3 linked regions of the Homo sapiens genome follow. The protein of the gene in region 1 interacts with the protein of each later gene in a pairwise test. Each region holds a gene or a part of one and is shown in the gene's direction. Other genes may lie near its edges.

Region 1 (3,658 bases):
TGCTTTTAGTCACATTGGTATAAAATAATTTAATGAAATAAAGTCATTGGGAGGGGATTTGTTTCATAATTTTTTGGTCAGTGCTATAATACATGCATGTATCTGAGTATCTGAATGGCCTGGGTTTTTGTTAGTGGGTTGTTTTTTTTTTGTTTTGTTTTTTTTTTGAGACAGAGTCTCACTCTCTTGTCCAGGCTGGAGTGCAGTGGCGTGATCTTGGCTCACTTCAACCTCTGCCTCCCAGGTGGGTTCAAGCGATTCTCCTGCCTCAGCCTCCCAAGTAGCTGGGACTAAAGGCACGTGCCACCACACCCGGCTAATTTTTTATTTTTAGTAGAGATGGGGTTTTACCATGTTGGCCCAGCTGGTCTCAAAACTCCTGACGTCAGGTGATCTGCCCACCTCGGCCTCCCAAAGTGCTGGGATTACAGCTGTGAGCCACTGCGCCTGGCCAGGGTTTTTTTTTTTTAATTGGTAATAATAACTTCTTTTTTTCTTTTTTTAATGGGCAAATGGCATAAACCTTTAAGGGCAAGCATATTTTCCAGTCATGATAACAAAAGTGAAAGATATAATTCTAAATATTTGGCTTTGAATATTTGGTTTATTTATTGATGAAAAACAGAACGTAGACCATAGAGATATATACAGTATATAGAGGAGAGGATGATTAGTAATGGACTTGTGTTGAGAAACGTGCACTTTATAAAGTTTTCTAATTATGAAGCTATCCAGCGTCTTTTATACCACAAGCTGCACTAAGGTAGTTAGCTATGGCTAGAACATAGAAGGGAAGACATAGAAGGGCCTCGGTTTTGCATTTGACAGAGAGGCTCCAGCTTCTCTTTTTTTTTTTTTTGAATGTAGTTGATAGGGATGTTGAGATATTTATAGAAAACTTCTACAAGAGAAGTGTTTAAGGCTGAGTGCTGTAGCTTACACCTGTAATCCCAGCACTTTGGGATGCTGAGGCAGGTGGATTACGAGGTCAGCAGTTTGAGACCAGCCTGGCCATCATGGTGAAAGTCCGTCTCTACTAAAATACAAAAATTAGCCAGGCGTGGTGGTGGGCGCCTGTAATCCCAGCTACTCAGGAGGCTGAGGCAGGAGAATCGCTTGAACCTGGGAGGCCAAGGTTGCGGTGAGCTGAGACCACGCCATTGCACTCCAGCCTGGGCGACAGCGAGATTCTGTCTCAAAAAAAAATAAAAAGTGTTTAAACATAGCATACTATTTTTTGTTTTCTTGTTTTTTTTCGTTTGTTTGGTTTTTTGTTTGAGATGGAGTTTCCCTGTTGTTGCCCAGGCTGGAGTGCAGTGGCGTGATCTTGGCTCACTGCAACCTCCGCCTCCTGGGTTCAAGCGATTCTCCTGCTTCAGCCTCCCGAATATGGGATTACAGGCATGCACCACTACGCCTGGCTATTTTTGTATTTTTAGTAGAGACGAGGTTCCTCCGTGTTGGTCAGGGTGGTTCTGAACTCCCGACCTCAGGTGATCCGCCCACCTCAGCCTCTCAAAGTGCTGGGATTACAGGCAGGAGCCAGTGTGCCTGGCCTGTTTTCTTTTTCTCTTAGAGGCAGGGTTTCCCTATGTCATCCAGACTGGAGTACAGTGGCACAATCATAGCTCACTGTAGCTTCAGATTCTTGGGCTCAAGTGATCCTTTTGCTTCAGCCTCCAGAGAAGCTAGGACTGTAGGCATGCACCACACCTAGCTAATTTTTCTATTTTTTTTTTTTTTAGTGACAGGGTCTTGCTTTGCTACCCAGGCTGGTCTCGAACTCCTGACCTGAAACAGTCCTCCTACCTCAGCCTTCCAAAATGCTGGGATTACAGCTGTGAGCCACTGTGCCTAGCCAATATCTCATACTCTGTGTACTCACTTTTCATAAAAGTGGCCACATTTGAATAGTTTTCTTTAAATCTAAAATACAAGCTCTAATACTTTACATTTCAGAATTTTTGTACTTAGGAAAAGGCTTTCTAGGTCGTCACATTCAGTGTATTTTGTTGATGATAAGACATAACGCACACTGCCCATTTTATTTTCCTCTAGGTTTTATGGGAATTAGAAACCTTACGTCTCATAAATCACTTTGAAAAATCCATGAAGGCAGAAATTGGAGATGATGATGAGTTATATATAGTAGACAATAATGGAGAGATGCCACTGTTTGACATCACTGGGCAAGACTTTGAAAATAAGCTTCGAGTTCCTCTTCTTGAAATACTGAAATATCCTTACTTGCTTCTACATGAACGTGTTAGTGAGTATCTTGATGGTTCCTCAAGTTATATCAGTTTTATTATTTTAGTACCATAAGAATTTAGGCTTATCTATATTGCAAATTTGTTTGCTAAACATATAATTAGGATATATAATTAGGACTTCATTTTTTTTCCAACGTTTTTTATTTTTTGAGTTCAAACACAAAATACCTATTTTTGGGGCACAGTTCAAACTTATCTTGTTCAGAGGGTAACTGAAGATTGTTTTTATTTTTTTTTAGAGACAGGGTCTTGCTGTGTCTCCTAGGCCGAAGTGCAGTGGCGCAGTCATGGCCCACTGCAGCCTCTACCTCCTGGGCTCAAGTAATACTCCTGCCTGAGCCTTGTGGGTAGCTGGGAGTACAGGCGTGTGCCATTGCGTCCAGCTAATTTTATGTTGTGTTTATTGTAGAGATGAAGTTTCACTGTTGCCCAGGCTGGTGTTGAACTCCTGGGCTCAAGCAGTCCTCCCACCTCAGCTTCCCAAATTGCTGGGATTATAGGCACGAGCCACTATGCCTGGCTCTCAACATTTTATTGTGAAAATTTTTTAACATAGAAAAGTAAATTATACAGTGAACATGATATACCCATCACATAGTTTATACGGTTGTTAACATTTTGCTATATTTGCTTTATTACGTATCTGTTCACCTCTTTGTTCAATTATTAATAATTTTCATTCTCGCCGGGCATGGTGGCTCACGCCTGTAATCCCATCATTTTGGGAGGCTGAGGCAGGCAGAGCACCTGAGGTCAGGAGTTCAAGACCAGCCTTGCTAACATAGTGAAACCCTGTCTCTACTAAAAATACAAAAATTAGCCAGGTGTGGTGGCAGGCACCTGTAATCCCAGCTACTCAGGAGGCTGAGGCAGGAGAATCACTTGAACCTGGAAGGCGGAGGTTGCAGTGAACCAAGATTGTGCCACTGCACTCCAGCCTGGGTGACAGACAGAGACTCTGTCTTAAAAAATAGTAATAATAATAATTTTCATTCTTGTAGTATGTCTGTGGCAGGGTTTCTCAGCCTTGCATTGGTGACATTTTGGATAATCCTTTGCTGTGGGCTGTGCCGTCCATTGTAGGATGTGTAGCAGCATCCCTGGCCTTTGTCTACTAAATGCCGCTAGCACTCCCTATCTCCTTTGTGACAACCAAAAATGTCTCCAGACATTGCTGAATACCCCTTTTGGGGGGTGAGGTATAAAATCACCCCTGGTTGGGAAATGCTATTCTGTAGTAATTTTCATTAACCACTATGGCATGGCTTATTATAGCTGTCTAGATTTTGGTTGTTGATATTTGCATTTCATAATACGAATCTCTTGAAAGTAAAGGCATTTCCCTAACCTATCAAATCTAACAATACCTTTTTTTTTTTTTTTTT
Region 2 (3,658 bases), about 100 Mb from region 1:
GTTTTAGACTGTTTATGAACAAAAAAGCAGTATTATGTATTTATAATCCTGCTTTTCCAGACCTTCCAGGACAGTGATGATGTTTTTGCATTTTCAGTCCAGTAAATAGAAGACTAGACATACCTGGACCCCTGAAGAAACGCTTATTTAGCATTAATTGATTCTCTATTAAGTTATGGTTCTGAGAAAGCCAAGATGCCCTAAAGTGAGCAGGTTTAATATGAAAGCTATGGTGGAATACTTGTATTTCAGTCATGAGTTTTTGTTGTGGGTTTTGTTTATTGGTTTTTCTTATAGTTTGTTAAGGCCAATGAGTCTATTTAGAAAATTACAATTCTGTTATTTGATTAACTTGACCCCAGTTGACTAGTGATGGAACCTCCTGTGATAAAGGAGGTGGAGGAAGATGAATATTAGGCCCTGGGAAACCAAGGGCCTAGTAGTTTTTTGTTGTTGTTTGTTTATTTGTTTTGAGACAGAGTTTCACTCTTGTCACCCACTGCAATGGTGCAGTCTCAGCTCACTGCAACCTCTGCCTCCTGGGTTCAAGCGATTCTCCTGTCTCAGCCTCCCAAGTAGCTGGGATTACAGGTGCCTGCCACCATGCCCGGCTAATTTTTGTATTCTTAGTAGAGACAAGGTTTCACAACGTTGGCCAGGCTGGTCTTGAACTCCTGACCTCAGGTGATCTGCCTGCCTTGGCCTCCCAAAGTGCTGGATTACAGGCATGAGCCACCGCGCCTGACTCCCCAATAGTCAATATACTCAAAATGATTAGTATAAAATGCAGCTTTGGAGTTTATGAGATAAAGTCAAAACGCATACTAGATTTCAAGCTCTAGCAAAGTTTTGAGCCAATGTAAACTGATAAAACAAACTAATCTTTAATATTCTAGTCATCCTTATGGGAAAGGATAATAGGGAAGGGGACCAAAAACATGATTTCAAGATATTCTGTGGCCTGACTTTTGGATTAAAGAAAAAAGCTAAAGGAAGGCTTATTAGGAATGCTGAATGGAATGAGTGATTAACTGAATATAATAGTGTAGTAATAATAACAGCTGACATTTACTCAGCACCTACTGTGAGCCAGGCACTGCCTCTTGGCTGCTTTTTCATTTATTATTTAATCTTCACTAAAAGTTTCCTCTCCCTTTTTAAAATTAGCTTTCTAAGGTTGAAAAAAGAATCTTTCACTAAAAATCATAGGATTGGTTTAAACAGGTGAACTTTCTGGTATGTAAGTTATGTCACCAAAGTTGTTTTAGAAAAGTACATACAAAATATCACAGATAAATCAGTAGTCTGTATTGTTAGTGGCATATGTATATGAAAGGTATAAAGCCATGCATAGAAATAACATCAACTGAGGAGTGTGGTGTTTTTGTTTTTTGTTTTCTAGAGAGTGATAGGAGGGGAAGATAAGGGGCATAACATAAGTGGTGGATACATGGGTATTTGGTACTTTTTTTTTTTATATGTCAGATATTTCTCAAATTATTTTTAAAAAGAATAATAGAATGTTACATAATATTTGAGAGCTTTACTATGTAGCAGGTGCCTTTTCTAAGGGCTTTTTACATCTTCACAAACCCTGTAAGGCAGATTCTGTTATCACTGACCTGCAGATGAAATTAAAGCACAGAGATACTAACTGGCACATAGTCACGCTGGTAGTGTGGAACCAGGATTCAGTCTTAGGAAATCTGACTTCAGAGCTTATGCTTTAAGCACTATATTACTATGCTACAGTGCCCCTTTATAAAATAAAACAAAAGTAATGGGTCACTTAAGTATTTTCACCAAAATAAGTTTCAAGGTCTTTATTTGCATTTTTGTTGAGACTATTTAGTCATTCCTCTATTATCAGGTTACTGATATATTTCTTTCCCTTTTACAGATAATGGCATCAGCTGCTAAGGAATTTAAAATGGACAACTTTTCACCTAAAGCTGGCACTAGCAAATTGCAACAGACAGTACCAGCTGATGCATCTCCTGATTCTAAGTGTCCTATATGCTTGGATAGATTTGATAATGTGTCTTACTTAGATCGCTGCTTACATAAGTTCTGTTTTCGCTGTGTACAGGAGTGGTCAAAAAACAAAGCTGAATGCCCACTATGTAAACAGCCCTTTGATTCTATTTTCCATTCTGTGAGGGCAGAAGATGACTTCAAGGAGTATGTCCTAAGGCCTTCGTATAATGGTTCTTTTGTCACCCCTGATCGACGATTTCGCTACCGTACAACTCTGACAAGGGAACGAAATGCTTCTGTGTATTCACCTAGTGGTCCTGTGAACAGAAGAACAACAACTCCACCGGATAGTGGAGTACTGTTTGAAGGGTTAGGCATTTCAACAAGACCTAGAGATGTTGAAATTCCTCAGTTTATGAGACAGATTGCAGTAAGGAGGCCAACTACGGCAGATGAAAGATCTTTGCGGAAAATTCAAGAACAAGATATTATTAATTTTAGACGAACTCTTTATCGTGCTGGTGCTCGAGTTAGAAATATTGAAGATGGTGGCCGCTACAGGGATATTTCAGCTGAATTTTTCCGTAGAAATCCAGCTTGCCTTCACAGATTAGTCCCCTGGTTAAAACGTGAACTTACAGTTCTTTTTGGAGCTCATGGATCTTTAGTGAATATTGTCCAGCATATTATCATGAGTAATGTTACTCGCTATGACTTGGAGAGTCAGGCATTTGTGTCTGATTTAAGACCATTTTTACTTAATCGAACTGAGCATTTTATACATGAATTTATCAGTTTTGCCCGATCTCCTTTTAACATGGCAGCCTTTGACCAGCATGCCAATTATGATTGCCCTGCTCCTTCATACGAAGAAGGCAGCCATTCTGATTCTTCAGTCATAACAATATCTCCAGATGAGGCTGAGACCCAAGAGCTGGATATTAATGTAGCCACTGTTAGTCAGGCACCATGGGATGATGAAACTCCAGGACCATCTTACTCAAGCTCAGAGCAGGTACACGTTACTATGTCTTCTCTTTTAAATACTTCTGACAGTTCAGATGAAGAACTTGTCACAGGAGGAGCCACGTCTCAGATACAAGGAGTACAAACCAATGACGACCTAAATAATGACAGTGATGATTCTTCAGATAATTGTGTCATTGTTGGGTTTGTTAAACCACTAGCTGAGAGGACCCCAGAACTTGTTGAACTGTCCTCTGATTCTGAGGACTTAGGTTCTTATGAGAAAATGGAGACAGTGAAGACACAAGAACAGGAGCAATCTTACAGTTCTGGTGATAGCGATGTTAGTAGATGCTCATCTCCACACTCTGTCCTTGGAAAGGATGAACAAATAAATAAAGGTCATTGTGATTCTAGTACAAGAATCAAATCAAAGAAGGAAGAGAAACGATCTACATCATTGTCATCTCCCAGAAACCTGAACTCATCTGTAAGAGGAGACAGAGTATATTCTCCATATAACCATAGACACAGAAAGAGGGGAAGATCAAGAAGTTCAGATTCACGTTCTCAGAGTAGAAGTGGGCATGATCAGAAGAATCATAGAAAGCATCATGGGAAGAAAAGAATGAAAAGTAAACGATCCAGAAGCAGGGAAAGTAGCAGACCTAGAGGGAGAAGAGACAAAAAGAGATCAAGAACTAGAGATAGCAGT
Region 3 (3,257 bases), on another chromosome or scaffold:
TATATGTGTCTGTGGCCTCTTCTGTGGTATCTTTTATACTGTTGTATAAGAAAGTTTTTATGTCTGTTCCCTTGATGTGACAGTCCTTCACATATCTTAAAACAACTTTCACATCTTGCCTTAATCTGTGTTTACATTGTATTCATGTTTGGAAAAGTCAGGCTTAAATTATAAAGGTAGAAAAATTTCATGGTTTTAGTTTCATTAGAGAAAACTATTTGGTTTATTGTCTTTAAACAACAGAATTCACTTTTATAAATAGGTTCTGAGATGCAGTAAAATCGCTGGTGTGAAAGTAGCAGAAATTACAGAGCTAATATTGAAAGCTTTGGAGAATGACCAAAAAGTAAGGTAAGTAACTTTTCCAGAACTAAGTGGTCTTTTATTTTCATTTTTTAAATTTTTATTATTTTTTTTAGTATAAGCAAGCTTTATTATGCATGAACTTGATTTCACATACAAAGTTAGAATGGCAATTTCAATTAAAATTGACTCATTAAAAAGTGTAAATACCATGGTATAGTTATGTTACCCAAAACTCCGAAAGGTAGTGAAACTGGTAACAGATATTGCTACTCATCTTTGGACGGATACAATAAAAGTATTAATGAAACTGGTTCCCAGACAAGTATGTGTCACTTGCTCCTGTGCCTTAGGGAGGAGAGGATGTTATAACACAAGCATTATTGATGCAGTGACTTGTGGATAGTTGCTCCTTATTAACACTGCTAAAATTAGGTTCACGTTTTTTACTTTGTGTGGGAGCTGGTGATTCTTGTCCTTTTGTTTTATGAGGGATATCTTTCAAAGTGCTGGCATCAAACCCACTTATTGCAAAATGCATCACAGATGGGAATTTAAGTCTGGGTCAAGTCCAGAATTCTAAAACAATAAAGAGGAAAGACCCTCCTAAGAGCAAGAGGTCTTCATTAATCCAGACTCCAAGATACAACACAGGGAACAGGAAATGGCCCTAAATGGTCTTTTAATATATTTTTTTTCTTAAGGATCTTCCTTGAACGAGGGCAACCATATAAATTTCACACTTGATCTTTCCTTATTTGTTAATCTGAATTGAGTATACTATTTAATGTGTTTTTAGAAAATTGGACTTGTTATATTTTCTGCAATTTAAATGTAACCTATATTGAAAAATCATATAAGATTTTTGTTTGTTTTTTGAGATGAAGTCTCACTTCTCACTCTGTCACCTAGGCTATAGTGCATTTGTGCAATCTCAGCTCACTGCAGCCTCCGCCTCATGGCTTCAAGTGATTCTCCTGCCTCAGCCTCCCAAATAGCTGAGATTACAGATGCATACCACCATGCCCGGCTAATTTTTATATTTTTAGTAGGGATGGGGTTTCGCCGTTTTGGCCAGGCCGGTCTCAAACTCCTGACCTCAGGTGATCCACCCGCCTGGGCCTCCCAAAATATTAGGATTACAGGTGTGAGCCACCGTGCCTGGAGACATAAGATTTTTCTTTAGCAGTTAACATTTTCTTAGGATAAAAATAATCTAGTAACTCAAATTAATGGAAGGAAACAGGTTGATTTCCATCTCTACCTCTTACTGTGCTATCTTAAGCAAGATACATAACCCAGCATTTCAGTGTCCTCTTCTATAATATGGGATATTAACACTACCTGGTAGGGCTGATTTGAGGGTTAGAGAATAGTATATTTTAAGCACCTAGCACATGGTCTGGCACGTGGTTTAATAAATGATTATGCTAACTATTTACTCTTGTTAGGCATAATAAATTGGTGAGGTTAAGTTAGATAAACTAACTCTCTTCCAATATTTTTCATCCACCAAAGGATAAAATAATAGTTTTTTTCCCTTCCTGTCTTCTATCCAATCTGTTACCTTCCTCCCCCTTCCTTCCCACCAAAAAAACCCCCACATACAGGAAAGAAGGTGGAAAGTTTGGTTTTGCAGAGTCTATAGCAAATCAAAGGATCACAGCATTTAAAATGGAAAAGGCCCCTATTGATACCTCGGATGTAGAAGAAAAAGCAGAAGAAATCATTGCTGAAGCAGAACCTCCTTCAGAAGTGTATCTTTATTTGGTGGTTTTTGCAGTAACAAGATTCATAACACTTGGCATTATAATATTAGGCTATATGAAGGATGTGTATACTGAAATTAGTTTTTGTAAACACTGTACTTTGTTAGAGAAAACACTTAAAATACAAGATAGAGATGTGAGTCATATTCTGTTGATGGTATAACATTCAGCTTCTATTCAGTTATCCTGGAAAAAACAGATTTTAAGGACCAATTTAATTTAGTACTATAACTAAAATGTTGAGAGAATCTGTCTCTTCACATTTCTTATTAATTGCATCCATAAAATCTTGCCTGAGTTTTTTTTCTTCTTCATTGTTCAGCCATCCATAGTGTAGCTATATTAAGTTTTTTTTCCCCTAGGAACTTGGGGCACACTTGAATCAATCTTACAAGAAGAAAACTTTCATTCTCATCTTCAACAGTTCATCAAATAGCAATATTTTTGTTACTCAGTTTTCTTAACTTGTTAAGTGTTTCTACACCTGTGCTATGGACTCCTGGAACTGCCCAAATTGGAGAGGGAGTAGAAAACTCCTGGGGTGATCTTGAAGACTCTGAGAAGGAAGATGATGAAGGCGGTGGTGATCAAGCTATCATTCTTGATGGTATAAAAATGGACACTGGAGTAGAAGTCTCTGATATTGGAAGCCAAGGTAGGTGACACTTTATGGCACACTTACTATATATTACATACATATAGTATTACCGTATAGTTATATATATAATGCATAAAATGTGTGTATATTTATATTATCACTGTATATAGTAATATATAGCATATTAGCTATATAGAGATGTATAGTGGATAAATAACATACAGGATACTATATAGAGAGAATATAGATATGTAGTTATATATAGGGATGTAAGTATTGCATTTTTAGAGGGGCTAAATATTGTGATTTAAATTTCAACTAAATTATTGTGGCTAGCTGCAATACTAATGCTACTTTCTAAAAGAATATGCATATCTTTGTAGAGTAGTGGAACACTGGCATAAATGATAGTGATATTTTTAATTAAAAAAATTTTGTGTGTGTGTATGTATGTGGGTGGGTTTTAAGGGAATGAGTTTCTTGAAGATCTTATTCCTCCCTGCTGTCTTTTTTTTTGTAGTTTCTAGACTGAAACAAAAAGCCCATCCCATATCATAACATATAATACTGCCTAAATAAAACTTTCT

The links.
Region 2: the proteins of SETX (region 1) and TOPORS interact in a two-hybrid assay, tested with the Homo sapiens proteins (one study listed by BioGRID and IntAct).
Region 3: the proteins of SETX (region 1) and EXOSC9 interact in a two-hybrid assay, tested with the Homo sapiens proteins (one study listed by BioGRID and IntAct).

The regions. Positions count from the first base shown.
Region 1 is NC_000009.12:132,344,872-132,348,529, reverse strand, and holds part of SETX (probable helicase senataxin), read left to right. Parts: intron 1-2,058; coding exon 2,059-2,269; intron 2,270-3,658. UniProt on the Homo sapiens protein: Probable RNA/DNA helicase involved in diverse aspects of RNA metabolism and genomic integrity.
Region 2 is NC_000009.12:32,542,569-32,546,226, reverse strand, and holds part of TOPORS (E3 ubiquitin-protein ligase Topors), read left to right. Parts: intron 1-1,900; coding exon 1,901-3,658. UniProt on the Homo sapiens protein: Functions as an E3 ubiquitin-protein ligase and as an E3 SUMO1-protein ligase. Probable tumor suppressor involved in cell growth, cell proliferation and apoptosis that regulates p53/TP53 stability through ubiquitin-dependent degradation.
Region 3 is NC_000004.12:121,811,321-121,814,577, forward strand, and holds part of EXOSC9 (exosome complex component RRP45), read left to right. Parts: intron 1-262; coding exon 263-351; intron 352-1,913; coding exon 1,914-2,060; intron 2,061-2,545; coding exon 2,546-2,727; intron 2,728-3,257. UniProt on the Homo sapiens protein: Non-catalytic component of the RNA exosome complex which has 3'->5' exoribonuclease activity and participates in a multitude of cellular RNA processing and degradation events.